Linked DNA regions of Homo sapiens. The main gene of each other region encodes a partner of the protein of the gene in region 2 in a complex. Each region holds a gene or a part of one and is shown on either strand. Other genes may lie near its edges. The genes, in order: BRIP1, TOPBP1, GINS1 and PHF8. A codon is read from its position in the direction of its gene.

The links.
Region 1: the proteins of TOPBP1 (region 2) and BRIP1 are in contact, whole or in part, in a crystal structure (PDB 3AL3), measured with the Homo sapiens proteins. Residues at the interface, in NP_008958.2 of Homo sapiens: Leu1272, Ser1273, Ser1274, Leu1275, Asn1276, Pro1277, Arg1280, Gln1298, His1311, Leu1313, Arg1314, Asn1315, Glu1316, Lys1317, Leu1319, Gln1366, Arg1407, Gly1410, Phe1411, Leu1414, Thr1466, Glu1467, Ile1469, Ala1470; in NP_114432.2 of Homo sapiens: Ser1129, Tyr1131, Phe1132, Thr1133, Pro1134, Glu1135, Leu1136, Tyr1137, Asp1138.
Region 3: the proteins of TOPBP1 (region 2) and GINS1 are in contact, whole or in part, in a cryo-EM structure (PDB 8OK2), measured with the Homo sapiens proteins. Residues at the interface, in NP_008958.2 of Homo sapiens: Leu490, Leu491, Ser492, Gln493, Tyr494, Glu495, Asn496, Leu586, Ser587, Arg588, Thr589, Val590, Val596, Cys601, Glu602, Val603, Ala605, Thr606, Val607, Gly608, Val610, Lys629, Pro636, Val637, Pro638, Val639, Met640, Thr641, Arg726; in NP_066545.3 of Homo sapiens: Asn43 (codon at 3,175), Gln44 (codon at 3,178), Val47 (codon at 3,187), Asn48 (codon at 6,439), Lys51 (codon at 6,448), His66 (codon at 6,493), Arg91, Tyr94, Gly95, Ser96, Asn100, Arg103, Phe104, Arg119, Ala122, Met125, Glu132, Gly133, Leu134, Asp135, Thr137, Gln138, Asp139.
Region 4: the proteins of TOPBP1 (region 2) and PHF8 are in contact, whole or in part, in a crystal structure (PDB 7CMZ), measured with the Homo sapiens proteins. Residues at the interface, in NP_008958.2 of Homo sapiens: Gln1298, Cys1299, Arg1314, Asn1315, Glu1316, Leu1319, Arg1369, Ser1406, Arg1407, Gly1410, Phe1411, Arg1413, Leu1414, Arg1465, Thr1466, Glu1467, Ala1470, Asp1471, Gln1475, Asn1483 (codon at 1,600), Tyr1484 (codon at 1,603); in NP_001171825.1 of Homo sapiens: Gly842, Ala843, Cys844, Phe845, Asp847, Ala848, Tyr850, Ile851, Tyr852, Pro853, Ser854, Leu855, Glu856.

Annotation. Positions count from the first base shown.
Region 1 is NC_000017.11:61,860,500-61,867,464, forward strand, and holds the start of BRIP1 (Fanconi anemia group J protein), read right to left. Parts: upstream 3,030-6,965; 5' UTR 2,785-3,029; exon of another isoform or gene 1,411-2,784; intron 1,071-1,410; 5' UTR 1,041-1,070; coding exon 948-1,040; intron 1-947. UniProt on the Homo sapiens protein: DNA-dependent ATPase and 5'-3' DNA helicase required for the maintenance of chromosomal stability. Acts late in the Fanconi anemia pathway, after FANCD2 ubiquitination.
Region 2 is NC_000003.12:133,599,733-133,602,971, reverse strand, and holds the end of TOPBP1 (DNA topoisomerase 2-binding protein 1), read left to right. Parts: intron 1-1,578; coding exon 1,579-1,722; 3' UTR 1,723-2,734; downstream 2,735-3,239. UniProt on the Homo sapiens protein: Scaffold protein that acts as a key protein-protein adapter in DNA replication and DNA repair. Composed of multiple BRCT domains, which specifically recognize and bind phosphorylated proteins, bringing proteins together into functional combinations.
Region 3 is NC_000020.11:25,410,667-25,417,701, forward strand, and holds part of GINS1 (DNA replication complex GINS protein PSF1), read left to right. Parts: intron 1-450; exon of another isoform or gene 451-620; intron 621-3,123; coding exon 3,124-3,188; intron 3,189-6,437; coding exon 6,438-6,536; intron 6,537-7,035. UniProt on the Homo sapiens protein: Required for correct functioning of the GINS complex, a complex that plays an essential role in the initiation of DNA replication, and progression of DNA replication forks.
Region 4 is NC_000023.11:54,041,467-54,048,735, reverse strand, and holds the start of PHF8 (histone lysine demethylase PHF8), read left to right. Parts: upstream 1-4,262; 5' UTR 4,263-4,974; exon of another isoform or gene 4,975-5,625; intron 5,626-5,915; coding exon of another isoform or gene 5,916-6,007; coding exon 6,008-6,105; intron 6,106-7,269. UniProt on the Homo sapiens protein: Histone lysine demethylase with selectivity for the di- and monomethyl states that plays a key role cell cycle progression, rDNA transcription and brain development.

The DNA.
Region 1 (6,965 bases), on a different chromosome or scaffold from region 2:
AAATCCAAAAATTAGCTGGGCGTGGTGGCGCATCCCTGTAATCCCAGCTACTGGGGAGGCTGAGGCAGGAGAATAGCTTCAGCCTGGGAGGCAGGGGTTGCAGTGAGCCAAGATCGCGCCACTGCACTCCAATCTGGGCGACAGAGTGAGACGCTGTCTCAAAAACAAAAAGAAAAAAGGAAGTTCACAGCAGCATTGTTTGTAACTGCAAAAGAATGTAAACAACCTAAATGTCTACCAATAAGAAAATGGACAGATAAATTCTGGTATATTCATCCAATGGAATTTATACAACAATTAAAATGGATTAAGAATCAACAGGGCTATACATTAAAAATAATGCTAAGTTAAAAAACTCAAGTTCTGCATAAAAAGTAAGGTACCGTATCACATCAATGCACAGTTTCAAATATGTAAAATAATATTCTATATTGTTTATGGATACATATATATGTAATAAAAGTATAAAAACATGGCTAGGAAAGGAAAAGAACAAATTCAGGATACTAATAATCTTGTTACCAGTAAATAAGATATGAAGTACATATGGCAAAATAGCTGTAACAAAACTGGAAAGCTGGTTTACTCAAATTTGTATATTAATTTTCTACATGATCCAAACAAAACAATGGTGAGAAAAATAGTATTCTGTGTAAAAGATAGTAAATACTCTGTTTTTACTTAAAAGTATAGCAGTTTTTCATTAAAAGTATAGAAATTCCAAATGAGCTGAGAACATTTTTCAGAATGTTCTTCTTTGCCTTAACCACAGATATATACAGTTTAGCTGCAATCAGTAGTTTCCCAGAGGTTAGATATTCTTCCAAGTGAACCCAGAAAATATTCTCCATTTACTGAGAATATGAATGCAGTCAAATACTCAATGTACTTTATGGGTCATAAGTATCTATATCTTAATAAAAACTTAACTGCTGAAAAATACTTACAGAATTCATCATAGCAAGCTGTGACGGGTAAGCTTTATAAGGAAAGTAAATCTTCACCCCACCAATTGTATATTCAGACCACATTGAAGACATAGTGCTTTCCTGTTTATTTCAGATTCCTAACTACAACAGAAATGAAAATGTCAAATATTGAGACACGCCTTACAAAGAAAACCAGAGAACCAAAACTAAGGGAGAAATCTGGAAACAGAAACTGGAATTAATAAAAGTATAAACAAAACAAATGGAAACAAAATAATTTCCTAGTCTTATAAATCACAGCGGTCAAGAGCATGTCTTAGAGTCTAACAAATCTAGATTTGTATCCTTCACTCTGCCAGGTATTAGTTGTGTGACTTCGGGAAAGTTAGTTACCTTCTCTAAGCCACAGTGACTGCATGTACCCCATAGGATTGTGGTAATGATTAAGTGAAATAATGTGCAAATATGATAAAGTACATACCAGATTAAACATGAGCTCTTGTAACAGTTAGATCAGATGTAATCAACCTACAGAAACAAATAAGTTCCTGAGGCCTCTCTCTCTACAACTCCGTAGCATCACTCTTTCTCCAGTTCTTCCCCTTTGTGTTACCCCTTTCTGCAGTCCTCCAGTTAGAAGAAAAAAGCTGTTGACCAGAAGTCAGGAAGCATAGGTTCTATACCAGGTTTTGGTATACTGCCTGGTATGTTATCTTTGACTCAGGTATGTTATCTTTGACATATCTTTTTACTTCTCTAGTCTAAGATCCTTACCTGTGATAACCCCTAATTTAATTTAAAGGCTGTTATAAGAAAGAGAATGCCTTGGCACATAGTAGGCACTCAAAAATGTTATTTGAAGATCAGTAGAGTATTATAGAAACAGGATGGGCTTTGGAGTAAGGCAATCCTAAGTTTGAATTCCACTGTGTGAATCACTTAACTTCTCAGAGCTTGTTTCTCCATATATGGAATTGAAATACTACTACTTACCTGACAGGGTTTTTATGAAAATTAGCCAGGGCAGAATGTACCTAACCCAGGATCTGATACAGATGAGGATCACTTTAATCCTCACCTCTTCTAAACCACTTTTCTTAACCTAGGATCCACGGATGTAATTCAGAGACAATGACCTCTTGAAATTGCAAGCATAAGTTTCTGTACATGATTGCATTTTTCTGAAGAAAAAGTCCATAGATTTCTCTTCCCGTAAATATATCTCAAGGAAATCAAAATAGCGGGGGAAATTACATGCACTGTTATTAAATAAGGAATTATTTGCAGTCGTGGGAAAAAATTGTAAATTCAACCTGGGGACGAAGAGATGGTTAAAATAGCAATTCAATAGATTATGAAGCCAATAATAACATTCACCACTGCTTGTGTGCTCCAAAAGAAGAACCATTATTCTAGGGTATTTTCCAGCTCTAACATTTTGCGATTCTATCTGTAAAGCTCTGAGAATGAGGTATGGTGGAATCTAACCTCTTAATATGAATCAACAACTCAACGCTGGCCTAGTTACTCAGATATAATCTAGAAATCAGCCCGTCCTGTACCCCGGCTGTGGCAACAATAGTGTCAAAATGGGGTAGCTTCCCCCAAACATTGCATAAAGGATAAACACACCCCTCTGCCTCCCGCCAAGAATTAACGCAGCGCCCGGGCTAAGAACAGGCCTGCGCTCAAAGGAGGTAAGGATAGGCTCCCTCCTCAGGTTTTCTGCCCCGTATCTCCCTCCTCCCCCAGCCAGTTGAGATCCCCGAGACCCTGGTGATCCAGTCACCACCCATGGGCCCGCAGGCTGTGCAGAAGAACTCAAGCCCTTTCCGTGGACTTCCCTCCGACTTGCCTGTCTGGAGGGAAACCGAAGCAACGCTCTGAGCTCCGATTCACTGAAGAAAAGGAAAGGAAACCGACTTCTGAGAGCAAATAAAGCGGAGCCCTGGAAGAGAAGAAAGGGCACGAGCCCTTCCTCCTCCCTCTTCCTGGGGGTGCTGCTACTTCCCCGGCCTTGTGTGCAGGACTGGGGCCGCCGTTACCTTTCCTCGACCCACCAGACCCCTCAACCACACAACCCGAGACGAATTCCCGCCTCCCGCCCCCTCGACTCCCAGCGCCCAATAGCCCAGCGAGCTCGACCAATCACCCGCCAAGGCCAGGAATCAACCAGTCCCGGTGCGAGGTGAGGGGGCGAGAACTTCGGCATCCAATGGAAGTCTCCGAAAAAAAAAAAAAAAAACAAGGGCTCAAGGTACGCGGCGGAAGGTTGTCGCCACTCCAGCAAATCCCTAGTGTTTGTTTAAAGTAGAAAGTCGTCTCAGTTTGACTTTTGAAACCGGCGATAGAGTCTATGCAGCAAATTCCTTGGAAACTGGAAGTCTCATTCTTCACGTCCGTAGACCAGCGGAAAGGAAGTATCTTTAAGCTTTGCCAAGTTCTTTGAGCATTTATCAGTGCCACTCAATTTAAATTACCCAGCTTTGCAGTAGCCAGGATAGCGAAGACTCAGGCGGGAATTGCCAGACTGCTGAGCCAAACTTAAGTAAGAAGGCTCTGTGACATCGGGCTACAATCTATCTTTCATAATATTCAAGGCTTTCCCGGATGCTAAAATAAGCCAGAGACAAGCTCTCAGGGTCTCCAGTATCAGATCACTTCTACTTCCATTAAGGCTTATCCGCCTTCCATCCCTCCTAAGACCAGTTTATTATTTGCCAGTAGTACTTTAATTTACTCAAAGAAAAGGAGGTTCATCATGATCTTGCCAAATCATGTTATTTTTTTAAAAAATCTGTATAACCTAAACTTGGCTCAAATAATAATGTCTCCAAAAGGCAAAACCTCATACTGTTTCTCAAATTCAAGTAACTAGTTTGGGGAAGGAGTTTGCTGGGAAGAAAGAGCAGGAGGGGGCTAGTTGATTTGTTTGCCTCATTGTCAATTGTGATATATCTTACCAAAAATGACAAAACTTGTAGTCATAAAAATAAACTCTACCCTTTGACCTAGTAATCTGAGCTCCAGATATTTATCCTAAAGACGTAATCTAAACGAAAGAAAATGTGATACCGCAATTGACAATAATATCTATTGGTAATACTGAAAAAAATTATGAACTTCCCAGTCTAGTAATATGGAGGTGGTTATGACAGATGAATTCAATACATTATGAAGCCAATAAACTTATAAAAATTAAACTTGCAAGAAAAAATCCCATATAAGGTTAAGTGAAAAAAGGCAAAGCAAACCCCAAACTGGGTGTTAGGGATTCAGTAATGTGAAAATACATATGAATGAGCAAAGATGAAGTAATTTACTGTTAAGACAATGAAAGGAAGGATAATGTTTAAAAATAAATCCTTAAAAATACCTTCAAATTGTCATTTCTCTTTTATAATTTTTAAAACATCAACTCTTGGCCGGGCGCAGTGGCTCACGCCTGTAATCCCAGCACTTTGGGAGGCCGAGGCAGGCGGATCACCAGGTCAGGAGACCAAGACCATCCTGGCTAACACGGTGAAACCCCGTCTCTACTAAAAATACAAAAAATTAGCCGGGCGTGGTGGCGGGCGCCTGTAGTCCCAGCTACTCGGGAGACTGAGGCAGGAGAATGGCGTGAACCCAGGAGGCGGAGCTTGCAGTGAGCCGAGATGGCGCCACTGCACTCCAGCCTGGGAGACAGAGCGAGACTCCGTCTCAAAAAAAAAAAAAATCAACTCTTTTGAGTAACTGCTCTAGTATAACTACTCTCATTTTCCTCTCCTAAATTACTAAGAGTTTCAACTGGCTCTCACCTTGCATTGCCATTTAATGTATGTGGCATAACAGAAAGGGATACACGTAGGCCCTGGAGCCATACAGACCTCGAATACAGTCCCTTGAACCGTTCCCTTCAGGTTAACTCTAGTGGAATGAAACACAAAAACTACAGGTTCGTTTGATAAAGAATATGAATGTTTATAAACCAATATTCAAAATAGCTGCACACATCTGTTTTCACTTGAATAAAAAAACACATTGTGACAAATTTTATAACCTTAACTTAAAATACATGAATATTAACATTTACTAATATATTTACACATTTTATTTACATCATCAACAAATCTGATGAAAAAGAGCATATGTGATTATTTTAACACAGCAGGTTATGACCAGTCTTTGAATATTGATCCAGGAATGTGCACTGCATTTAATTAGAAAACATACTTTTAACTTTTTCTGAACTCCTAGGGCATATCTATTCACACAAAATATCGCAAGGCCTCAGTTTAAAAAAAAAAGGAGCAGTTGTATTTAATCTTAAGGGACTACAAAACTGCCTTGTTTAAAAATATGAAAATTCTTATGCTATTTTTAAGATACTTTTATTACTTTTATTTTTCACATCAAAATTACTTAATTGAACATTAAGCATCTAATAAAAAGTTATAAATATTCTATCACATGTGATACTATGCACTTCATGATTTGAAACAGCTACAAACTCATTCTCATAGAATATGAGGTAGGGCCAGTAGTAACCCCATTTTACAAAGGAAGAAAATGAGATGTGACTATTTACTAGTGAAAAGGCTAAAGTTAAATTTCATTTCTCAAAAACTACACCTTCTTATTAGCCTAATTTCTTTTACAAGTGAAGCGGTCTGGCCAGGTGCGGTGGCTCACACCTGTAATCCCAGCACTTTGGGAGGCCAAGGTGGGCAGATCACCTGAGGCCAGGAGTTCAAAACCAGTCTGGGCAACATGGCAAACCCCCGTCTTTACTAAAAATACAAAAATACAGGTGGCGCGTGCCTGCAGTCCCAGCTACTCAGGAGGTTGAGGCACGAGAATCCCTTGAACCCAGGTGGCAGAAGTTGCAGTGAGCCAAGATCATCCCACTGCACTCCAGCCTGGGCAACAGGGGAAGACTCCACCTCAGGAAAAAAAAAAAAAAAACACAAGTGAAGAGGTCTGTTTCAAGTGGGGGTGGGGAAGTGTGTGATTGAGGTATATCTCAGAGAGAAAAAAGGGAATTACTTTCTACATTGATAATTTTTTTTTAATGATTAGGGTTTACCTGAATATGTCTGCCTAATCAATGGAAGTTACTGACAGAGGACTGCAAAATCCTTCGGCAAGACAATATTTTCTACACTTTAACTTTTCCTCAGGTTCAAACACTGCATTTTCTTACTCAAAGATCTTCTCAAAGTAAGATATGAATTATAATCCTGATGACAAACCAAGAGCTCTTTAATCCAGTGGGTTTTATTGCTCTACCTTCATTTAATTTGATACATATTTCCCCCCTCTGAGCATTAGGTAAGTTAATAAAGCATTATAAAAATAAATTTAAAACATAAAACTAAATGAGATCTCTCAGGTTCTTCTTTGAACAAAGATGTTTCTGTAAACACTTTTACACCAGTATCTTAAAATTCCAAATTATTCAAGTATCTCTTTAAACATATGGCTTCATATATTAATAAAAATTGAAGCAAATATGTGAAATCTTTAAATCCTCATCTGTATTTCCACAGAAATCATTTACAAAAGCTACTTGCCTTTTTAAAAGTCTTCTCAATACTCTTTCTTGAGAACTAGAATTCCAACTTGCATTACTATTACTTGCACTGCAAATCTTTGAGATTTCTACTTGTGTTTTTAACTCCTATTATTTCCTTAATTCTCCTTTCCCTTTACCCTTTTTTCCTCTCCCATCTTTGCATCTTTGTCACATTCTGTTACAAGCTCACAGTTAAAATAAACACTAGGGCTACCCACAGACTCATTTTTATAAGAAATTAAAGGCATGGCAGTCTTCACTTCAAAAGCTAAATACAAGGCCAAATTCCCTTTCCAATAATGAGTTTCTTACATGTGTTCCCAGTGGAAAAAAAAAAAGCTCAGCTGCTACAATAGAAACATATCAGCAAAGTAGATCCAAAGATGTGCCAATCAGAAACAAGCAAGCATAATTCTCATAAAGTTCTAAACTATACTCATGTTGAATTGAATTGTTTTAGTGATTCCAAGACAATACTT
Region 2 (3,239 bases):
GTGAGCCAAGATCGTGCCTCTGCACTCCAGCCTAGGTGACAAGAGCGAAACTCTGTCTCAAAAAAAAAAAAAAAAAAAATGAAAAAAGGTAGATCTCTTGCATCCAAGTTGGTTCATTTGCTTCCCCTGTCCTTTATACCAGGGGTCAGTAAACTATAGCCACCTGGCCAAACCTGGCCCACTGCCTATTTTATAAATAAAGGTTTGTTGGAAAACAGCCATACTCATTCATTTATGTATTTTCTATGGCTGCTTTTGCACTATAATGGCAGAGTTAAGTAGTTTCAGCACAAATCATCTATCCCACAAAATCTAAAATGTTTCTGTCTGAGCCTTTACAGAAAGTGTGCTGACCTCTGCTTTATGCAGTAGTTGTCATATATTTTACATCTACATCTTATAGCCCCAAATAAGATTTTACTTTAAATAGGTTTTGCTTTTAACAATTCTGTGCATTTTGAGGAAACTAAAATAAAAAATGGTATTTTATAATTACCCTCATGTATACCAGTTTGAGTGTCAGTTTTCCCTGAAGATCTGAGTTTCCATCTGATAACATTTTCCTTCAGCCTGAAGAACTAACTTTAGTTTGGAGTGCAGGTTGATTGGGGATCAATTCTAGCTTTCTGTTGTATGAAATGTCTATTCTACCTTCATTGTTGAAGGACAGTTTTGCAGGATACAGAATTATAGATTGACAGGTTTTTTTCTTCTATTAAAGACTTCACTGTCTGCTGGCCTCCATTGTTTCTGTTGAGAAATCAGTGATGGTCATTTGAATTGTTCCCTTGTATTCAATGTGTCATTTTTGAGACCAGCCACCAGCCTGGGCAACACAGCAAGACCCTTATCTCCCCCTAAAAAAGAAACTCTAGGTTCTATTGTTCCTTTGCTCCTCCAAAGAGTACTGTGTTGTTTAACAGGCAGTTTACTTCATACACTGTGTTTGCGTCCCCAGCCCCCCATTTGCTTGGTTCGTTTATTCTCCAGGCTCTATGGTTGCTTTTAATATATTTTGGTCAGAATTTGTAGCTGTTATCCATGGAAGAATTGAATCAAAAGGCACTTACTTGGTATTTTGTGGTGATTCATTTTCAGGTTGCCCAGTCTGCCATATTGCTAGAAAATTAAGTTTTATTACACTTATAATAAGGAGGAAAAGATCCATTTCTATGTTGGGAAATGGTTGTGGGGGGAAAATGCAAGGGTTTTGGAGTCAGATCAGTTATGAAATTTGGCTTTGCTACCTGCTAGTTATGTGACATTGGTTGTTTTCATTTAACCTTTTTTATTTTATCTCAAAAATGGGGATTAAAAACACCGATATGAAATGTTTGTAAGATCTGAGCTAGTCCCACTCTACCTGAACCATACACGTATTTCTTTGATAAAAGGTGAGACTTTGTCCCACAGGGTCCATTTTGTTTAATTTGCTGGAACCTAGGAATGAATATGCGTTTTCCTTTAAGTTTGTCAGATTCATCCCTGAGAGGTCTGAGATTTAAAGAAAAAATCTATTACCAGATCACGTAAATGTTTGAAATCATTTTAAAAAATCACTTATTTTTCCTTTTATAGGAATCACCTCCTCATGTAGAAAATTACTGTCTACCAGAAGCTATTTCATTTATTCAGAATAATAAGGAACTTGGGACTGGATTATCACAAAAGAGGAAAGCTCCTACAGAAAAAAATAAAATCAAACGACCTAGAGTACACTAATCGCATCTACCCTTTAGTTACCAAACATTAAATGTTTTTAAAAATTGAAAGCCTGAATGTGACTGTGATAGATTTGGGTAGTAATTTAAAGATGAGTACCTGAAGAATTCTGCTTCAGAGTATAATGATGACCCTTCTTGAGTTTTGAACACCTGAAATTGTAATCACTGAAATATTAACTGTTTCTTAATAAAAAGTTACCTGAAATAACAACAAAATACAACTCCTCAGCTAGCTTGCTGTTAAACCACATTGAAGTCTGTTAAAAGATATTTATTTTTCTTGTAAATATCTGAAGCTGTAGCTTAGTGGAAATTTTAGCAAGGTAATGGATTTTGCTTTAAAATGTCTGCCTTACAAATTCATAACAACAAGATTTGTCAGTCAGCATTTATTCATGTTTTCCCTGATTTTTATCTTCTCACCATTTTACCTCTTTTAACAGGAGCCTGAGCACAAGGTTTAATGAGGAAGCTGGGGCTATAAATATGTGTGTATATATGTATATGTATGTTTGTACAAATCTCCATGATGTTTGCCAAGTTTGAATGCGCAAAACTTGGAAAATGTGACAATAAAGAATAAAAGTAGTAACTCAAATTAGTATTAAGATGTGTTTACATAGATAAATTTTTTAAAAGAGCACCCTGGCATCTGTTCTTCTGTTGAAGCAACAAAACATTTATGTAACGTAAAAAATGAATTGCAGGGGCCTGGGTGCGGTGGCTCGTGCCTGTAATCCCAGCACTTTGGGAGGCTGAGGCAGGCGGATCGTCTGAGGTCGGGAGTTTGAGACCAGCCTGACCAACATGGAGAAACCTCATCTGTACTAAAAATACAAAAAATTAGCCCAGTGTGGTGGCACATGCCTGTAATCCCAGCTACTCAGGAGGCTGAGGCAGGAGAATCGCTTGAACCCGGGAGGCGGAGGTTGCGGTGAGCTGAGATCGCGCCATTGCACTCCAGCCTGGGCAACAAGAGCGAAACTCCATCTCAAAAAAAAAAAAAAAAAGAATTGCAGGCCAGGCACGGTGGCTCATGCTTGTAATCCCACCACTTTGGGAGGCCAAGGTGGGTGGACTGCTTGAACCCAGAAGTTCAAGACCAGCCTGGACAACATGGCGAAACCCCATCTCTGCAAAAAATAGCAAAAAATTAGCCGGGCATGCTGTTTGATGCTTGTAGTCCCAGCTACTTGGGAGGCTGAGGCATGAGAATTACTTGAACTCAGGAGGCAGAGGTTGCAGTGAGCTGAAATCATGCCACTGCAACTCCAGCCTGGGTGACAGAATGAGACCCTGTCTCAAAAAAAATAAATGAATTGCTTAACATTTCTGATATTTGTTATTTAGAATATTGCCCTATTAGATTAAAACATACTGTTATTGGAACTCTGTATTGCATTAGCCTTTATTATGCTAAACCTAAACACCTAATACTACATGCGTTACCAGAATTCTCTATAAATACACCTAATTTCATTTTAAGGACAAACTAGAATCCGTTAGGAATGTAAT
Region 3 (7,035 bases), on a different chromosome or scaffold from region 2:
TTCTCCTGCCTCAGCTTCCCTAGTAGCTGGGATTACAGGCGCCTGCCACCATGCCCAGATAATTTTATGTATTTTTAGTAGAGATGGGGTTTCACTATTTTGGCCGGGCTGGTCTCGAACTCCTGACCTCAGGCGATCCACCCACCTCAGCCTCCCAAAGTGCTGGGATTATAGGCGTGAGCCACCGTGCCCGGCCCAACACACAGGCTTTTCTTCTGGAATCACTCATGGTTAAGCGCTGTGTTCAGCAAACAGAAAAGTGATTACACCCTTTCTATATGCAGAATTGATACTTTTTTTAAAAAGTACATTTTTAAGAAAGTTAGGCCAAGCATGGTGGCTCATGCCTGTAATCCCAGCCACCACTTTGGGAGGTCAAGGTGGAAGGAACACTTGAGCCCAGGAGTTCGAGACTAGCCTGGGCAACATAGTGAGACCCCATTTTTACAAAAAATAGAATTAGCTGGGTGTGGTGGCACACACCTGTAGTCCCAGCAACTTAGGAGGCTGAAGTGAGAGGATTGCATGGCTCCAGGAAGTTGAAACTGCAGTGAACTGTGGTCACGCTATTACACTCCAGCCTGGGTGACAGACTGAATCCCTGTCTCAAAAAGGAAAAGGTAAGAAAATTACCTTGGGCTCAGGTAGAAGTCATGCTTGCATTTTCCATCAGGAATTACATCTTTTGAGCAGAGTTGAGTAGTTGATTTTGGAATTGTGCCATTTGTATATGCCACAGCATTTTTGCCAACACATATATTTTGGCCCTAAAAATAGACAGTGAAAAAGAGATGGGATTGCTTCTCTTTCGATTGTTGGCAGACCTATTGGGTAACATTTAATCATTTTGGGCTGGACACGGTGGCTCCTGCCTGTACTCGCAGCACTTTGGGAGACCATGGCAGGCGGATCACTTGAGGTCAGGAGTTTGAGAGCAGTGTGGCCAACATGGCGAAACCCTGTCTCTACCAAAAAAAAAAAGATTACAAAAATTAGCCAGACTTGGTGGCTTACACCTGTAATCCTAGCACTTTGGGAGGCTGAGGTGGGTGGATTGCCTGAGGTCAGGAGTTCGAGACCAACCTGGTGAACATGGTGAAACCCTGTCTCTACTAAAAATACAAAAATTAGCTGGACGTGATGGGCACCTGTAATCCCAGCTACTTGAGAGGCTAAGGCAGGAGAATCATTGCTTGGACCCGGGAGACGGAGGTTGCAGTGAGCCAAGATTGCACCATTGTACTCCAGCCTGGGTGACAAGAACAAAACTCCGTCTCAAAAAAAAAAAAAATTAGCTGGGCATTGCTGGTGCACACCTGTAGTCCCAGCTACTCGAGAGGCTGAGGCAAGAGAATCACTTAAACCTGGGAGGCAGAGGTTGCAGTGAGCTGAGATCGCACTACTGCACTCCAACCTGGGCCACAGAGTGAGACTTCATCTCAACAACAACGAAAAAAATCAGAATTCTAATGTTTTATTTTTCCAAGGGAAAATTTGCCCGAAACTGGATACTAGAAAAACTCCTATGGCCGGTTTTTGCAGTGCAAACCAAAAACACTATTCCTTTTTCTTTCTTTTGGTATTAACCTTTTAAGATCACTTTTAAGCTGGGCCCAGTGGCTCATCCCTGTAATCCCAGCACTTTGGGAGGCTGAGGCGGGTGGATCACCCGAGGTCAGGAGTTCAAGACCAGCCTGGCCAATATAGTGAAACCCCGTCTCTACTAAAAATACAAAAAATTAGCCAGGCGTGGTGGTGGGCGCCTGTAATCCCAGCTACTCGGGAGGCTGAGACAGGAGAATTGCTTGAACCCAGGAGGCAGAGGTTGCAGTGAGCCGAGATTGCACCATTGCACTCCAGCCCAGGCGACAGTGTGAGACTCCATCTAAAAAAAAAGACCATTTTTTAGTAAATTATGAATTATTTACATATTTTTCTTTATACCTCATGCTTCAGTAGGACGATTGATATCTTTGTTCGTCAATTTTATTGATGTATAATTTACATACAACATGTGTATTTTAATAGATTTTTGAATTTTGACTAATATGTACATCTTTATAACCAGCACCCTGATCAAGATTTCTGTAATTATCAAAATATCTCATATAACCCATAAATATACATACCTACTGTGTACCCACAAAAATAAAAAAATTAAAAAAGATTTCTGTAACTTTGCCCCCCTTTTGTAGCTACCTCCCACCTATAGCCTTAGGCAACCATGAATTTGCTTTCTCTGACTACAGATGATATTATTCTTTTTGGCAAACTTTTCCTGTGAAGGGCCAGAGGGAATCATTTCATGTAAACTCTTGTGTCAGGCATCTCTTGCTCAGTATAACGTATTTCAGATTATCCTCATTGTTGTGTATGTTGTCAGTAGTTCATTTTTTTTTTTTTTTTCTTTGAGACGAAGTTTCGCTCTTGTTGCTCAGGCTGGAGTGCAATGGCATGATCTTGGCTCATTGCAACCCGGGTTCAAGCGATTTCCCCTGCCTCAGCCTCCTGAATAGCTGGGATTACAGCCTGTCACCACGCCTGGCTAATTTTTGTATATTTAGGAGAGACGGGGTTTCACCATGTTGACCAGGCTGGTTTTGAACTTCTGACCTCAGGTGATCCACCCGCCTCAGCCTTCCAAAGCGCTGGGATTACAGGCATGAGCCACCACCCTTGACCCATTCTTTTTATTATATTAGATTTTTCAGATAAGTGGAAGGTTTATCCATCTATCATTTGATGGACGTTTGGGTTGTTTCTACATTTTTATTGTTATGAATAATGCTGCAAAAAACATGTGTTTTCTGTTTTCTTGAGTATATATATACACCTAGGAGTAAAATTACTGAGTCATATGGTAATTCTGTGTGTAGCTTTTGAGGAACTGTCAAGTTTTTGCCCACAGGGCTATACCGTTTTACATTCCCACCAGCAATGTACGAGGGTTCCAGTTTCTCCGCATCTCACCAACACTTGTTATAACCATGCTAGTGGGGTGTGAAAGGACTATTGCTTTTTGCTAAAGTATATAAATGAAAGATACAGTTCAGTATTGATAGCATATTGCCACAGAATTGGTGGGGAAATCAGTGGATTTCAATATCGGTTTATATGTTCTAGGAGGATGGACTCAGACAAGTTCTGGAGGAGATGAAAGCTTTGTATGAACAAAACCAGTCTGATGTGTAAGTTTCATAAGATGATATTCTAAAACAATTCAATAATTAAGATGTTGAAATTGGCCGGGCGCGGTGGCTCACGCCTGTAATCCCAGCACTTTGGGAGGCTGAGGCGGGCGGATTACGAGGTCAGGAGTTTGAGATCAGCTTGGCCAACATGGTGAAACCTTGTCTCTACTAAAAATACAAAAATTAACCGGGTGTGGTAGTGGGTGCCTGTAATCCCAGCTACTCAGGAGGCTGAGGCAGGAGAACTGTTTGTACCCGGGAGGTGGAGGTTGCAGTGAGCTGAGATTGCACCACTTCACTCCAGCCTGGCGATAGGGCAAGACTCTGTCTCCAAAAAAAAAAAAAAAAAAAAAAAGATGTTGAAATCAGATAACCTTGCATTAGTTTTGGGATGCGATTTTTAAAAATTATCTGTAAAATTATCTGCTCTAGCTGTACAAATTAGCAAAAGTCTGAAGAAATTTGTGCTGATCACTGCTTAATAAATATCTGTTGTTTGGCTGATAAGAGTTGAAAGGAATTAGAGTGGACCTAAAATAAATGACATACCCTAAAATAAAAAATAAAAATAGGCTGGACACGGTGGCTCATGGCTATAAATCCCTGTGCTTTGGGAGGCCAAGGCAAAAGGATCAGTTGAGGCCAGGAGCCTGGACATATAGCAGGACTCTGTCTCTATTAAAAAAATAAAAATTAGCTGGGTGTGGTGGCACACACCTGGAGTCTTAGCTACTCAGCAGGGTAAGGTGAGAGGCTTGCTTGAGTGCAGGGGTTTGAGGCTGCAGTGAGCTATGATCACGTTACTGCACCCTAGCCTGGGTGACAGAAGGAGATCTCCATCTTTAAAAATAATAAATAAAAATAAAAACCTAACAAAGTGAAATACATGGTTCCCACTGTTTATATTTTTATCAACAGTTGCCTTAGTGAGTTTGTTAAAGGAAGAATAGGCAGTTTATTAAATGGATATAAATAGGAGCAGCAGTGATTTCTGATAGTTTGAGTGGAGTTCTCTGAGAACTAGCTATAAAAGGTTTCAGTGTAGTAGGTCCAGAGAGGTGACTAGATTTATTGACTCTTTAGAACTGAGCATGGTAGCTGGCACAGTGGAGAATTTGGGCGTATGACAAACTTCGTATGTTCCTGTGCGACACCAAAGGGAGTCAAGTACTGGATCAAAGTTGAAGTATTCAGGGTCTCAACTGTCTGTGACATGAGGTTTCCTCTTTGGGCTTGTTCGCTACAGTGTTTTTATCAGTTACTTGAATATAGAAATCAGTGTTATGGCTGGTAAGATTTGTGAGGCACATAAAATGATAGGAGCATTTCCAACTCCTGTGTATAAGGAGAGATACAGAAAAATCTTTACAGGTGGACTGAGGAAGTGAACCTCAACAGATTTGCAGTAAATATAAGGCAGATTTAAAGTCCTGAACTCAAGTCCCTAAGCCATTCATTGATTTACTCAAATATGTACTAAACAAATATGTATCAATAAGTGGCTGTGCTATTTCAGTGGTAAACAACAGTCAAGATGGCTTTCCCGGGCTGGGCACAGTGTGGCCCATGCCTGTAGTCCCAGCACTTTGGGAGGCCGAGGCGGGTGGATCATCTGAGGTCAGGAGCTCGAGACCAGCCTGACCAACATGGTGAAACCCTGTCTACGAAAAATACAAAATTAGCCATGCGTGGTGGCGCATGCCTGTAATCCCAGCTACTCCGGAGGTTGAGGCAGGAGAATCGCTTGAACCTGGGAGGCGGAGGTTGTGGTGAGTCGAGATCGCGTCATTGCACTCCAGCTTGGGCAACAATAGCGAAACTCCATCTCAAAAAAAAAAAAAAAAAAAAGATGCCTGTCCCTGGCGCTCACTGTCTAGTGCAGAAGACAGACATGAAATATAGATATGCCAAATTGGGATTCATGCTATGAAGGAAATCAGAAGAGTGCAAGGAGAAAGAAAAATGAATAGAAGGTCTAGCTTAAATTGAGGAATCAGGGAACTTCTCTCCAAAGAGGAGACATTTCAGCTGAGGCCTGCAGGAGATGCAAGTCTTAGGGAGGCAGTGACTGTGGGCATAGAACATTCTAGGTGGAGGGAACAGCATATGCAAAAGCCCCTGAATCATGGAAGAGAATGGGGCACTCAAGAAACTGACACTTAAAGAAGACCTATGTGGCTGGAGTTTGGCAAGTGGCAAAGGATGACACCAGATGAGGTGTAAGTGTGGACAGGTGGTGGTGTGTTTGTGTCTTAAAAGATAATGCTGGTTGCTGTGTGGAGGGGCTGAGAGGTGGGGGAAGCTGGTCACCAGGTTACTAGAGAGGTGACCCAGACTTGGTAGAAAGTGAGAAGGTTATAAATGTTTTGGAGGAGACCCTATAGGCCTTGGTTCAGTAAGGGAATGATTTTCTTGTATTCTCTGTGTTTATGCCATTCGCAAATTCATGATCCAAAATTCTTTATTCCACCTTCCTAGTTTCATCAGACTTTCATAGGGTGGCAGAAGTATATAGAACAGCCCTAGAAGACATGACAGGATGGGACATGTATTTTGCCTGTATTATCAGGGCCTAGCACAGTGCCTGGCATAGAGGCAGGCACTACATGAATGAATTCTTTTTATATGCATATGGTTGCTTAAAAACTCCAAAGTAGATTCTTATTCATTCAAAAGTTACATGTACTTTTTATAGGGTAAAACCAAAATTTTCAGTGTGAGAAATACTGAAGTATAGTACGTACACGTATTTGGAGATCAACAGATATTTGTAAGATGAGTGAAAGACCATTTTGACTCCATTTTACCTCACTTTGTTATAATGAGGATTTGGAAGCTCCACTGGAAGGGAGGTACTATGTAGAATAGCGACATGACGTAAGACCATAACCTCATGTCCATCATGTTAGCTTTGTCTCTTATCTCAGCGTGATAATGGAATCCTGAAAAGTGAATAACACAGTGTCTTTTAGAAAGAATAGAGATTAATCAGTGTGCAAAAATGCAAAGTACCAAATGCCTAAACAAAATGTATCTGGTAGCATGATCTTAGGCAAGTTGTTTAGGTTTTGGCTTTTTAACATATTAATAAAAGCTCTGATGTACAAATAGTTATTATTTGCTTAGGTTAACTGCTAATCACAAATGGATTAAAAACAAGCATGTAACTCAGTTGTTAGTTGGCTTTGAAAATTTTACTTATCCTGAAAAGTACATATTTTTTTTCTTTTTAAATGCTCCTATCAGGAATGAAGCAAAGTCAGGTGGACGAAGTGATTTGATACCAACTATCAAATTTCGACACTGTTCTCTGTTAAGAAATCGACGCTGCACTGTAGCATACCTGTAAGCTTCTCAGTTTTTGCTTGGGGTGGCAGGATTTTCTGTGTGGCTTCCCAGTTGACCATCTCAAATGGGTAACATGAAATCTTAGATCTCTCTCTCTTTGTAAGCATTCTAAATTTTTCCTCTGTGTTTTCATTTTTTTAATTTTTTATTATGAAAAATCACAACACTTTTAAAAGTAGGGAGAATAATACTATAATGAACCCCAGTGGAGCTATCATATGGTTTTAACAATTTTTATTATTTTGCCATATTTTTTTCATCGTGTTTCACTTGTTGGTGCCACACTATTTAAGTGCATCACGGTCTTTCACTACTGAATACGGTAGTGTTCTTACTATTTTTTCTTTGTCTTAGAAATAAGGACCTTTGGCCAGGCACAGTGGCTCATGCCTATAATCCCAGCAATTTTGGAGGCCAAGGCGGGTGGATCATCTGGGATCAGGAGTTCGAGACCAGCCTGGCCAACATGGTGAAACCCTGTCTCTACTAAAAATAC
Region 4 (7,269 bases), on a different chromosome or scaffold from region 2:
GGCAGCCTGGTGCTGTGGCAGCCAGGTCCCATCATGGGCTGCATCCTCTGAGACTGGACCAGTCCACACATTTCCAGGGCAGCAGCCAGCTGCCTCCCATCCTTAGCAGTGGCAAGACTTGCTTTGTCAGCAAATCTGACTGCCTCTGGTTCAGACCCCTGGCAGCTTTGCCTTTCCTAATATCCTTTGTCCACTCCCCACCTCTCAAGGACACTGGGGAGGAATTTTAGGAGTCGGGGTAGGAACCACTGTACCTAGGTCCAATGCTACCTCTTGTGAAGCCTTTCCTCACACACCCACTGAATGTGTTTGAATTAACTGTGACTGCCTCTTTGTTCCCACACCACACAGGTTGCTCAAACCTCTATGTAGCACTTAGGGTTTGACCTTTTCCAGCCTCCTTGTTTTGTTAATTTATTAGATCGTCTATTCCCTAAGGGTACACACAGGGTCTCTAATTCAGGCTTGGAGACCCTGACCCCCACCTGTAGCCCACCCAGTCCTCTTGCCCCCATCTTAGGGCTTTAGCACTTTTTTTTTTTTTTTTGAGATGGAGTCTTGCTCTGTCGCCCAGGCTGGAGTGCAGTGGCACAATCTCGGCTCACCGCAAGCTCTGCCTCCCGGGTTCACGCGATTCTCCTGCCTCAGCCTCCTGAGTAGCTGGGACTACAGGCACGTGCCACCACACCCAGCTAATTTTTTGTATTTTTAGTAGAGATGGGGTTTCACCATGTTGGCCAGGATGGTCTGGATCTCTTGACCTCGTGATCCACCCGCCTCGGCCTCCCAAAGTGCTGAGATTACAGGCGTGAGCCACCACACCCGGCCAACACTTTTGATTCCTTTTGCCTTTGTCCCTAGCTAGCTCTTTTTGTTATTCAGGTCTCAGCTCCTGTCACCTTCTCTGAGAACCCTTCCTTGACTACCTTATCTAAAATAGACTGCTTTCCTTTCAAATCATTCTCTATCTCATAACTGGTCTTACTTTCCTGATAGCACTCACCTCAATTGGAAATTCTCTGATTTGCCTCACTTTTTATCCGTCTCCCTTGCTGGAAATGAGTCACAGGAGGGCGGGGACTTGTCTGTTTTGTTTACCCCTAAATCCCCAGTGCCTAACAGTAGGTGTTCAAGAAAATATGTGAATGAAATTCACATATTAATGAAATTTTATTTGATCATTGACTGTTTCCGCCAGTAGACTGTCAGCTGCATGCAGGCCAGGGCCTTATCTGGGGTACCTCAACATCCTCAGCACCTAGCACAGTGCATGATGCATAGTAGATTAATAAAGAACTGTTGGGTGAGGGAATTAATGTTCCACACACACCTGAACTCAACATAGTCCAAATTAAATTTAGTCTCCTCCCCACCAAATCTGTTTTCTCTTCTGCGTAGCCCAGTTCATTCAGTGGCACCGTCATCTATGCTGACACTCAACCCAGAAGTGAACTCACACCCCTTTCACTCACTCATCTGCTATTATCAGTTTCCAAACACTGCCTAGTCAACCTCCAAAATATCCAAATTATCTCATCTTTTTCTACCCTTTCCCAAACTATCCTGGACCAATTTTTTCCCCCCAACACTAGTGAAACAGCCTCATTCCTCCTGACTCCTTGTGAAGCTAAGACATCTTAAACTGCAGGACCTGTCACTTTCCATAGGGTCACATGGTGATGTGTTTTATAAAGTTCACAAAATACATTTAAACAACAATTGGTTCAAAGTGCTGTCCCTTTCCACTGAGGGCCTGGCCATACTTTCCCTTGCATTAGGTGGTGTTGGAGCTGCCTGACATTTTTGAGATCCACCTAAGGGGAAGTTGATTTGGGGGATATATTTAGGTTGGGTTTCATGGGATATTTGTTATTTAAAAATTCATTTTATTTTTATTTTGTAGAGACAGGGTTTCACTATGTTGCCCAGCCTGGTCTTGAACTCCTGGGCTCAAGTGATCCTCCCATCCTGACCTCCCAAAGTGCTGGGATTACAGACATGCAATCTGCACCCGGCCCCATGGTACATTTACATGTGCCTTGTATCACTTCTCTTCGTAATTATTACCCAGGTGAAGGAATTGCTTGTAGAAATACTCTTACTGCCTACCTTTGAACCTAATTTTGTATTCATAAGTCATTTTTTTTTTTTTTGAGATGGAGTCTCGCTCTGTCACCCAGGCTGGACTGCAATGACACAGTCTCGGATCACTGCAACCTCCGCCTCCCGTGTTCAAGCGATTCTCCTGCCTCAGCCTCCTGTGTACGTGGGACTGCAGGCATGTGCCACCACACACGGCTAATATTTTTATTTTTAGTAGATATGGCGTTTCACCATGTTGGCCAGGCTGGTCTCGAACTCCTGAACTTGTGATCCGCCCGCCTCGGCCTCCCAAAGTGCTAGGATTACAGACATGAGCCACCGCGCCCGGCTATTTTTTTCTTAAAGACGTCTCACCCTTCCTCCCCCAAACCATATAAGCTTCAGGTCCCATTAAACCTGGACCTTTCAGTGCAGTGGCTCAGGCCTGTAATCCCAGCGCTTTTAGAGGATCTGAAACCAGGAGTTTGAGACCAGCCTGAGCAATATAGCGAGGCCTGGGCTCTATAAAAAATAAAAAATAACCGAGTGTGGTGGTGTGCGCCTATAGTCTCAGTTACTCATGAGGCTCTGGCGGAAGGACCGCTTGAGTCCAGGAGTTCTAGGGTGCAGTGAGCTATGACCGCCCAGCCTGAGTTGACAGAGTGAGACCTTGTCTCTAAAACAACAAACATAAAAAAAAAAAAAAACCCTAAACCATCCTCTGGGTAAGTCACAAATATGAGACTAAGCTACCCCTGCTCAAAAACCTGTGTTTTCTTTTTGCTAACTGCATACAATCTAAACTCTTTTGCATTTCGCAATCTTTCATGTTGTGACCCTTTACTGTTTGACCTCCTACCTATCTCTCTTCTGTTTTCCTTGTTCCAACAATATTCAACTTCTAGTAAATATTTTTCTATGTGCCTCCATGCATTTGTACACGTTGATCCTTTTGAGTACAATGTTCTCGCTTGTTTATTTAAGTGAACTTAATCGTCCATGTCCCCCTGCCGTCTTTCTTACAGCAGCTGCAAGCAGCTTGTAAGGCTCTTTTGTAGCTTCATGTTGCATTTTGCAAAGGTCATTTTGCAGGTGGTATTTGTGTGCTTACTGTGCCTTCTATTCCAATTGTTTACTCGCAACTTTGTTTCCTGCACTGGCAGATGCCCTCCCACTCCAGAGGCCCTGTTTTCACCATTGCATCCCCAGGGCCTACCCCACCATCACTGGTTAGTAAATTGTGTGCACGCACACATTTCCTTTTTAAAGCAATGGGACCCTTTAAGAAAATGAAATAGTAAGATAACTCCTAGAGAATTTTCTAGAATGTTTGAGAAAACCTAGGCCATCTTGAAGCATATGTACGAAGCTCCACTAACTCAGCAAAGCTCCACTAACTCAGCCTTTCCTCTCATCCCCCCTCCTCTCCCCTCCCCTCAGGCTATAGTCAGAAAATTGTGGGACAGGTGCAAACAAATCCTTGAACTGTATTTGAACTGAAGTGAAACAGTAGGGTCAAAGAAGAGTTCAGAGGGAGTTGTGGAGTTGGCAGCAGCTTTACAGAGGAACTACACTGAGGGCCTGGGGACAGAACGCGGGTAGCACAGGGCACAAGGTTCAACGTCCCTGCTCCGGGACTCAAGTCACTTGGCTTCTCGAAGCCCCTGCCTTCATTTGGTGATAATCACAGAGCTTCCTTCACAGGGGGAAGAACCAACAACGCAGAGACCGTGGGAAAGAGCCCAGCCTATCGAAGGTGCTCAATGAACAGGAGCCGCGGTGAGTACTCCGCCTCTACCCCGGCTGAAGCCCGCCCCCGCCGCCACCTATTAATTTTGTAGTTTGGAGTCACCGAGTTCACCTCCTCTCATAGGAGGAGAAGGCTGGGGAGGAGGAGTGTGCGAGTCGGGGTAGCTGAACTCCCTGTTTGCCCGGAGGAGGGGGAAGGCTAGGAAGTTTCGGGCCCCACTCAAAATGGAGCCAAACGTCTGCCTCGCCTAAGATGGCGGCTTCTCCGCCTCTGGGCTCAAGGTCTTCAGCGGCGATTGGGCACCTTAAAGAGACGAGCGGGTCCAAAGGTGGCTGAGAACCGCCCTCCTTTCTCAAGGTGGCGCCCCGCCCCCCCGATGACGTCACCCGGGAGCCGGCGGCTCGCGGTTCCCCGCCTCCGCCGCGCTCACCTCGCGAGTCCAGCCCTCATAAGATGGCGGTCGCCTTGGTTGTCTGGGTAGCGCCGCCACTCTCAACATGGTAGCTGTTTATCCCGTATTTCTCCTCCCCTCTCCGCCTCAACTTCCTCATTGTTTTGAATAAACTTTATTGACTACTCCGAATTGCCTACCACCGCCACTGGGCTTCTCCCAGCGACTTTTCGGGCCGTGTGCCTCGGACGTGGCGGCCGGTTCATCTCTTTCCCCGTTGGTTTGCTCGCGAGTATCTCCTGCCGGCCCAGCGACGACGCCACTTGCCCGTTCGCCGGGCGGCCGCCAGACTAGGCCCAAGCCGCGGTCTCCAGTAGGCCCGAACGGCCGGGCCGAGGGGAATGTTGTGGAGGAGGCTGCTCTGAAGCACCGTTGAGCGGCTGGCGCCGCGCGACCCAGCGGGGGGCTCGAGGGGAAGGCGAGCGAGGTTCCCGGCGGTACGGGGACTATCCCAGAATTCGACGCGCGTCGCCGTAGGGGCCGGAACTACCGGACGAGCCTCCGCTGAGGCGCTTCGCAGTCCCGGAGCTAGCCCGGCTGCCGGCGTGTCGCTGGGGCTGAGCTCCGCGGGCGTGGAGTCCTTGCAGCCCAAAGCATGAGGAGGTCCCTGTAGGATTCTGGACTGAAGACGTTCTTGTCAGGTTTGGGGCGTGAGGAGGTTCCTGTCAGTTGGGGAAGCGTTAAGATTCCTGTAAGTTTTGGGGGCTGCGAGGCTATTACTGTCAGTTTTAGGATATACTGTGAGGTACCTGAACATTTGGGGAGACTAGGGAGCTCTCATCAGTTTGAGGGGGGGCTGCAAGGAAACGCTGCCAGTTTCCGAGCGATGCAAAAGAATCCTTGCTTAGTTTCGGGAGTGTGAGGAAATTCTAGTCAGTTTGAGGGGTTTTGAATAGATCCTTTTGAGTTTCAGGGATGCAGCCAGAACCCTGTCATCTTTAAAGTACAGAACGAGCTGGTCAGTTTAGAGATTTATATTTATTTCAGTTTTGGGGGTGATGAGACTCCTGACTGGTCGGGGAAGGAATGATATTGAGAGTGATGGAAAGGATTATTTAAACTCTCCGAACACGACCCCAGAACTGTGATTTGAGTTGGGCGCCTAGTCTTGTCTGTCTTGTTCGTGAAGGCTTTGAGTAACCTGAAGAGACTTTCAGGGATCCCTTATCTCTCTCTGGTTGGCCCTATTTCAGGTGGTGAGAGGAGGGTCTTGTCTTGAGATACCCCCAGCCTCATTTTTGACGCTGTGGTTTGCGTCATAATAGAGGGAGCCCTGTGAAACAGGGGTCAGCTAGGGGAGGGTTCAGTGAGAGATGAAAGAAGCTTCCCGAAAAGGCTTCAGGTATTTTCTTGAAACCCGGAAAGAAGTTATCACTGACAACGGGGCCGAAGAAGGTGGGGGGTGGGGAGTGGAGAGTGTGGGGGCGGTGGGAAGCCTGGAAGGTTGAGCTCCGTTCTTTACGTGTGAAAGAAATTCTAAGGGCCGGGTGGACTTTCTCTGGTTGCCCCCTACAGCCGCACCAGCTGTGTTGCATCCCGGCGGCGGTAACTCTATTGGAGAACTGAGGGTTGGTGCAAGGGGGTGGGGGGCGGGGGCTGATTCACTCTGTAAAAAGTGTTATTTGTGCCTAGCTATCGTCCAGAGAGGACGCGTGCTGCCGCCTCCCGCCCCTCTTGACACGACGAACCTGGCCGGCCGCAGAACGCTCCAGGGCCGAGCGAAGATGGCCTCGGTGCCGGTGTATTGCCTCTGCCGGCTGCCTTACGATGTGACCCGCTTCATGATCGAGTGTGACATGTGCCAGGACTGGTTTCATGGCAGGTAAGGAGGGCAGGCCAGGCTACACAGGGTGCGGTGGCCAGGTGTGTTCACTTGCTCTCTCTTCCTTTCTCAGCTCTGTTTTTAGATTCCGGCTCAGGACCCCCTCTCCCAGACTCAGGTTCTGCCATCTCTCCTTGCAGAACAGGACCTAGCTGACATTAGCCTCTGGTTTCTCCTTTTCCTGTGTTTTCCCCTATGTATTTCTTCTTTGCACTTTTCTTTTGAGTGTTTTTTTAGATTTATAAGACCCCCCCCCCCTTTTCTTTCCTGTTACAAAGAATCATTTTTATATTCTTCTCTATTTTATTTTTTATTTTGTTTTATTTTTTTCGAGACGGAGTTTCGCTCGTTGCCCAGGCTGGAGTGCAATGGCGCGATCTCGGCTCACAGCAACCTCTGCCTCCCAGGTTCAAGCGATTTTCCTGCCCCAGCCTCCAAGTAGCTGAGATTACAGGCATGCACCACCACACCCAGCTGATTTTGTATTTTTAGTAGAGACGGTGTTTTTCCATGTTGATCAGGCTGGTCTGGAACTCCCGACCTCTGGAGATCTGCCTGCCTCGGCCTCCCAAAGTGCTGGGATTACAGGCGTGAGCCACCGTGCCCGGTCATCATTTTTATAGTCTGACAATTATGTTCTGCCTCACACACTGGCTTTTGGGAAAACAGTGTTGCTTATTTGAGGTAGTTGAGTCCATAAACAGGGATTTAAGTTGTGGCTTTGTACTTAGTTTCAGAGTGACCATGCACAAGTTGCTTTGCTTTTCTGAGCCTCATTGTCTTCAGCTATAAAATGTTATCAAATACATCCTTTCTGACTTTGCAAAGCAGTTTGGATGTACTCCATAAATGGAGGCAGAAATGGAAGAGTATTTTATTTCTACAGCATTTATCTGCAGCACCATCCAACTAAATTGAATTAAGCAGAATAGATGCTGGGTAAAACAGGAGTAAAACCACTGATGAATTTCCTTCAGTTAACCGTGTGTGCACATAAGCACCTGTCACCCAGAATTCCGGAGAGGTTAGTGTGTACGATAAAACTAATATTTCATTAATGGGATTTAAATCTCAGCTATGGAAAGACAACCTTGAGGGGGCTTTGTACACTGGAGCACAACAAAACAGTGTATGGCACCCTCCTCCTGTTGCTTGTTAGATTCT